Homo sapiens: one gene and its partner. The protein of the gene in region 1 interacts with the protein of each later gene in a biochemical or structural test. Each region holds a gene or a part of one and is shown in the gene's direction. Other genes may lie near its edges.

Evidence for each region.
Region 2: the proteins of PPID (region 1) and ATP5PO form a complex in vitro, tested with the Homo sapiens proteins (one study listed by IntAct).

The regions. Positions count from the first base shown.
Region 1 is NC_000004.12:158,716,836-158,720,496, reverse strand, and holds part of PPID (peptidyl-prolyl cis-trans isomerase D), read left to right. Parts: intron 1-1,210; coding exon 1,211-1,317; intron 1,318-3,296; coding exon 3,297-3,485; intron 3,486-3,661. UniProt on the Homo sapiens protein: PPIase that catalyzes the cis-trans isomerization of proline imidic peptide bonds in oligopeptides and may therefore assist protein folding. Proposed to act as a co-chaperone in HSP90 complexes such as in unligated steroid receptors heterocomplexes.
Region 2 is NC_000021.9:33,902,834-33,905,846, reverse strand, and holds the end of ATP5PO (ATP synthase peripheral stalk subunit OSCP, mitochondrial precursor), read left to right. Parts: intron 1-1,825; coding exon 1,826-1,912; intron 1,913-2,207; coding exon 2,208-2,321; 3' UTR 2,322-2,394; downstream 2,395-3,013. UniProt on the Homo sapiens protein: Subunit OSCP, of the mitochondrial membrane ATP synthase complex (F(1)F(0) ATP synthase or Complex V) that produces ATP from ADP in the presence of a proton gradient across the membrane which is generated by electron transport complexes of the respiratory chain.

The DNA.
Region 1 (3,661 bases):
CATTTTGTTTTTGGCATCTAATACAGTTATTGAGTAAGAACTCAGTAAGTATTTGTTTAATAAATAGGCAAATAAGCAATAATCACAAGAGCAACATTTTTTAAACGATTTATTAAGAAAAAATTAACTTTTTAAAAAATATTTAAAATGTTTACTTTCATGTTTAATAAAAACTTGAAATATGCTAATAAACTATATGCAGAAAATATTTAACATAGCAAGTGTGAGACTGCTATCTTTAGAAAGGTCTGCCTGCAAGAGTAGCACTTGTTTGGAGTCTGGGAACTTGACACTTGTACCATTTCCTAAATAGTAATGGTGATTTACTATGCCTAGCCTATTTGTACAAACATGAATGTGTGCTCTCTTTTGGGGAGTCTGGAATTTTGGTACATGCTAGGTAGAGTGTGCCCAATAAATACCTTGGGTGCTGAGTCTCTAATTGGCTCTCCTGGGCAGAAATACTGTGTACATGTTGCTGCATTTTTGTTGCTGGGGGAAGTGTGTGTTCTGTAGCACTTCATGGGACGGAGAAAGCATAAGGAAGCCTGCACATGGATTTTTCCAGACTCTGCCTGTGTCTTTCCCGTCATCTCGCTGTGTATCCTTACCACTGTGATCCAACCACATACTGATTTGTGTGAGCTCTAGGGTTCTCTGAACATGAAAGCAATCTTGGTAACCTTTGACACAAAGTGATATATTTGCTGAAAATTTTCCATTAGGGTAGAACAAATCTACTGGGAATCATTGGTCTGTATTCAGCAGACATTATTGAGTAACTAATATGTACTATGTGTACATGCACATAGTTATAAGGATGTAAAACAATACAGTTGGTGTACTTAAGGAGATCATTGCTGGAAGGGGCAGATCATAATGCCATATGTTATGTAGGCAGAGTCAAGATACTATGGGAGAAAAATTAGGACATACAGCTTAGGGATTTCAGTGACAGTTTTATAGGGGAGGTATCATTTGAACCGATTTTCTGAATGTTAGCAGGGATCAGGCAGTGAAAATAGGTTGGATTCAGATGGTGAAAAGCCTGAAGCGTTTGGAGTTGCGGAGACGGGTGGGGAGCGACAAACAGGAGAGAGACATGACTAGAGTCATGCACTACAAAGTTGTCTTACGTACGTATCCATTAGTAAGCATTGCTAAAGGCATCCATGTCTCAGTCACTAATAGCCATTTTCCTTTTTTGTAGTTATTAAGAAATTTATGATTCAGGGTGGAGACTTCTCAAATCAGAATGGGACAGGTGGAGAAAGTATTTATGGTGAAAAATTTGAAGATGAAAATTTCCATTACAAGGTAAAGTAGAGAAAATGCATGTTATTGCTGATAAAAAGATTGTTATATATCTGGAATACTTGTTGGATTAAGACACCAAAAAATGTTTCAAGTGTGCTTAGATTCTCCATTTCTTGTAATAGGAATCACTTTTGTAAATAATGGTTCTTTAATATGGAAAAGTTTTCATTCAGTAATGATTAATTCAGCATTATTTCATTGTGATCCAGTTTTTATATGCTTCAGTTAAGCCAGTGAGTTTTTAAATGCGACCAGCATCTGGCAAAATTGTTTCCAGGAAAAATGTTTCCATTGTTGGAAGGATGGTAACTTGTGCATCCTTATCCTTGAATTTGAAGAGCAACAAAACCATCACTAATATCCAGGATGTCAGGGGATTTGCACACTAGCAGATATAGTTAAATGTCCAAGCTCCTAAAGGACTTCAGTGGTGCCTGTGCCTTCTTGTCTTCGTTGTCCCAAGATGTAATTGGGGTATATTGCATCATTCAAGTTATAAGAATGGACATGTAAGTACAAAAGTAAAGTGATATTTTTGGAAATAAGGAATATGAGCAAGGGTATTAGGATAATTTGAAAAAATGTCGTCAGTCTTCCAGTCAGTGTTTATTGAGCCACTATCACTGGCACCAAAGGGTTTATAAAAATGAAAGGCCTTGATGACAAGGAATTTATAATCCTACCTCAGAGACAAGATTAAGATACATGGGACTACTGGAGAATAATAGTATATAAATAAATGCTAAATTGATTGAATATCCTTGCTTGTATAACATTGCTAATACTGTCTATATACTGCAGGAGAAAGATGTGATTTATGCAGTCTGAATTATTATGGAAGTCATTGAGGAGGAATGGCTACTTGGGCTGTGCAGACTGGGTCTTGCAAGGCGGCAACATGTCTGAGATTTGGTTAGGCAGGAACTGTAGTATTGATGCAGAATTTAAAAAGGGACGTCGGTGAGGAAAGACAAAGGCAAGAGACGTTGAGGAAATAAAGTTCTAGTTACTGTTGTACCAAAGGAAGCTACCAGAAGGATGAAAACTAAAGGTGATGTGATGATCACATTGACATAGAGAAAAGGGGCCTATAGACAAGACACATGATTCTTGCTTTCTATAAACGTGGTGGCCTTAAAATCTGAATTTGATTTAGACTGAGGGGAGTAAAAGGCATTTTGGTGGGGTGGGGGGTGTCATGAAACATTATATAACATGAGAGTTACGGTGCATGCACCAACAAGGAATACATTTAGAAAGCCTAGGAGATAAAGTGAAAAGGTTAAGAAATTGGGTTTCATAGATCCTTTGACAGGATTATGCCAAGGTAGAATTTTGATTTCAAGATGTATGCAGCAGTTTCTTTTGAGCACTCTCCGAAGAGGTGATTCATCTGGGATGAAAACCTAATCCAAATCCTGTATGATTTGGATTCTTTTGAGATTAGGAAAGTACCAAACTGAATGTCTTGGGTAAATTCAGTATCCCATTATTGTTCCAGTTTATTGATGTTTTGTAAAGGAAGACTTATACTGTAGGCATATTTATGAATTTGGAAGACCGTTCAGGTCTTCCCAGAAAAAAAGAGCATTCATCATAAAGAGGGCAAAATATATTACAAGAGTTTCATAATGCTGCATCTTCATTTTAAAGGTGAAGTGTAAGTATTTTCTCATGGCCAATTTAGAAATAACCCTCCCCCCGACTATTGTTTCTGTTACCTATTTACTTTGATAAGGTTTTTTAAAGTTTAAAGTGATTAAGTGCCCCATGTTTTGTGAATTAAAGGTTGCAGTTTATAAAAAAATAAAAAGTAATTAAAAAATTTTATAAGTGAAAAGTAAAAAAAAGTAGTTTGATCTAAATGGTAGTATAGTGCACCCCAGTTTTATGTTCAGTAAAAGAACAGTTCAGACTAACACACAATTCAGAAAAGAACACATCTAACCTTGGTTTTCTTTTAATTTTTATTTCTACAGCATGATCGGGAGGGTTTACTGAGCATGGCAAATGCAGGCCGCAACACAAACGGTTCTCAGTTTTTTATCACAACAGTTCCAACTCCTCATTTGGATGGGAAACATGTGGTGTTTGGCCAAGTAATTAAAGGAATAGGAGTGGCAAGGATATTGGAAAATGTGGAAGTGAAAGGTGAAAAACCTGCTAAAGTAAGTAAAAAGTTACAGTGAAATACACTTATTATCTTAGTTGCTATCTTTTTGAGACGGAGTCTCGATCTGTTCCAGGCTGGAGTGCAGTGGTGCGGTCTCGGCTCACTGCAGCCTCTGTCTCCCAGGTTCAAGCTATTCTCCTGCCTCAGCCTTCTGAGTAGCAGGGATTACAG
Region 2 (3,013 bases), on another chromosome or scaffold:
TCCGCCTCCCAGGTTCAAGCAATTCTCCTGCCTCAGCCTCCCAAGTAGCTGGACTACAGCACCTGCCACCACACCCGGCTAATTTAGTGTATTTTTAGTAGAGATGGAGTTTCACCATGTTGGCCAGGCTGGTCTCGAACTCCTGACTTCAGCCAATCCACCCACCTTGGCCTCCCAATGTGCTGGGACCACAGGTGTGAGCCACCGTGCACAGCCACAAGGCCATGATTTTCTTTTAAAGGATGCTTGTTTTTGCAAAAGATTTTAGAACCAACTGTTACTAATGCTTTTGATGTTGATACTGTTGGGTGCGTGAGTCTGTACTGTTTGAAAAACGTTATGTCTTGATGAGTGACTAAGAGCACAGGCTTTAGAAATACACAGACTGGTTTCAAATATTGGGGCTGGTCCTCACCTGCTGATGTGGCCTTAGGTGAGTTTCTTACCCACCCTGAGCCTCCGTTCCCTCATATGTAAAATGGGCATAATGACCGGTGGCCTTTCAGGGTTGCCCACATGAAGGGAGATAGTAGGCATGAAATGTGCCTGGCATAGACAGGTACCTGGCAGTTGGTACATGTCTCAGTGGAGGGTATGTATATTTCAGAATTCTGTAACCTTTTAGTCTCAGTAAATCATGTTTTGAACACGAATAGATTCTGGCCACCACCAGCACCCCCCACCCCCAAAAAAAGGATATTGTTATATCTTTACAAAGACATAAATTTTTCTGCCAAATTTTTTTAGGCTCTTAGAGGAGGGGCCAGGGAGGTAGGATTTATGACAAGTTAAAAAAAGGCCTTTTTAGCAGGGTGTGGTGGCTCACACTTGTAACCCCAGCATTTTGGGAGACTGCAGCGGGTGGATCACTCAAGGCCAGGAGTTCGAGACCAGTCTGACCAGCATGGTGAAACCCCGTCTCTACTAAAAATACAAAAATTAGCCGGGTGTGATGGCATGCGCCTGTAATTCCAGCTACTTGGGAAGCTGAGGCAGGAGAATCACTTGAACCTGGGAGGCGGAGGCTACAGTAAGCCGAGATCTCGCCACTCTACTCCAGCCTGGGTGACAGAGCGAGACTCGGTCTCAAAAAAAAGGCCTTTGGTTTAACAGCCTTCTTCATTTTCACCATTAGAACACTTAACACTATAACATAACTAACCAGGAGTAAGAGTTGGGGCCGAGAGGAGAGTGCAGTCTGGACATTTGAGGTGCTTGCTCTAAAGTAGGTTATGGAGCTGAGCTGACTTCAGGAAAAGCCAACTGCTCCAGGTTCTCTCACTGGGGTTCAGAGAGTGGAGTGGCCTGCCAGAGCTCCAGGTAGCTGTGGATGCGGGGAGATGAACAGCCAGCAGAGCTAGGCAAACATGAAGATGTAAAACCAGGTTAAAATGGCAACTTTTCAGCCAAGGACATGATAGATGCATGTCGTGTCCCCAGGGCTGCACCCAGGAGAGGCCTGTGTCCTCCTGCATTGATGGGGCTGCATCTTCAGGCATTAGAAACTTGAAGGCCTTTCCTTGTTAGTTCCAAGTTGTACTGCTAGCACACAGAGCAGAGGCAGGGAGGGAGTGGCATTTACAGGCCGTCCTTGAACGGCTGAGTGGGAGCTGCCCGGGTGATGCTGTGAGGCAGGGCCTTCCTGTGCTCCCTGAACCTCCAGCGTGAACAAGGAGTGAATGCTGCAGAGCAGCTCCATGATGGGCCCAGGTAGCAAAGGGAGGAGCTCACAAGGCCTGTCTTGGTGATGTGGGCCTGGGGTATTTTAACTCTGGAAGTTTCTGTTTTGCTTTATCTAAATTGAAAGGATGGTTTTGCCTTTCAGCCTTTAGAAGAAGCCACACTCTCTGAATTAAAAACTGTCCTCAAGAGCTTCCTAAGTCAAGGCCAAGTATTGAAATTGGAGGCTAAGGTAGGTTTTAAATTATTTATGGTACGTTTTCTCGGGTTATTTTAAGCTTAAAATGGCTACAGAAAGTACTAGTGAAATATTAGATCTAACTCTATACTAATTTTTCTGTAGTTAAAATTTTGTATTTATTTTAAATTTAAATGATTATCTGACTGTGCAGTTTTACTTTTGCCTTTTTCTAGGTGTAATTATAACCTCTTACATTTGTGCAACACATTTAGCCTTTCAAAACACTTTTTTGTGTGTCCCATTTGATTAGCGCGTTTTCACATTTCCAGTCTTACTTCTTTTGTAGACTGATCCGTCAATCTTGGGTGGAATGATTGTGCGCATTGGCGAGAAATATGTTGACATGTCTGTCAAGACCAAGATTCAGAAGCTGGGCAGGGCTATGCGGGAGATTGTCTAAAAGTGTTGGTTTTCTGCCATCAGTGAAAATTCTTAAACTTGGAGCAACAATAAAAAGCTTCCAGAACAGATCATATTATGTTCACTGTCTTTTAAACTGGAATGTAGAAGGCTTTATTTTTATGTCCTTTTTTGGTATCCCCTGAGTATAAAGGCCAAAAAGCCCTTTTGGCCTAGAGAATTTGGTTTGAGTAGATTATGTTTAGGAATTAATTGGTTAGACACAGCACCTAACACATGGTCACTCAGCAAAGTCTATCTGGTCCTGCCTGCCAAAATCCCGTGTCTTTAAGGGTTTGTTCAGAGTTCCTGGTCCCTACTAGATCATCGGATCTGTGTTTGATCCATAGCCCTCCAGGGAGGCCTCTTGCCCTTGATCCTAACATGAACACACCTAGTTGTAGGCTGCTCTGTAGCTTTCAAGGCCATTTCATGTACATCTGAAGCTGCATGACAGCCTTGTCACACGGGTGGGAGAGACATCACCCCACTTTACAAATGAGGAAAGAGATTGAGGGGCCCTAGAGATGTGCTCAGAGTCACCTGTCTGGACAGCTGGTGTCAGGCCCTACAGCCCATGTTTTTACCACTGTATAACTAACACCATGCGCCGACACGTTGCTGGAGCAAACGGGCAAAAGTTACCTTAGGTAGGTCCCCTGCCCCTTCCCGCTTTGTCCCTAAGATGCTCCC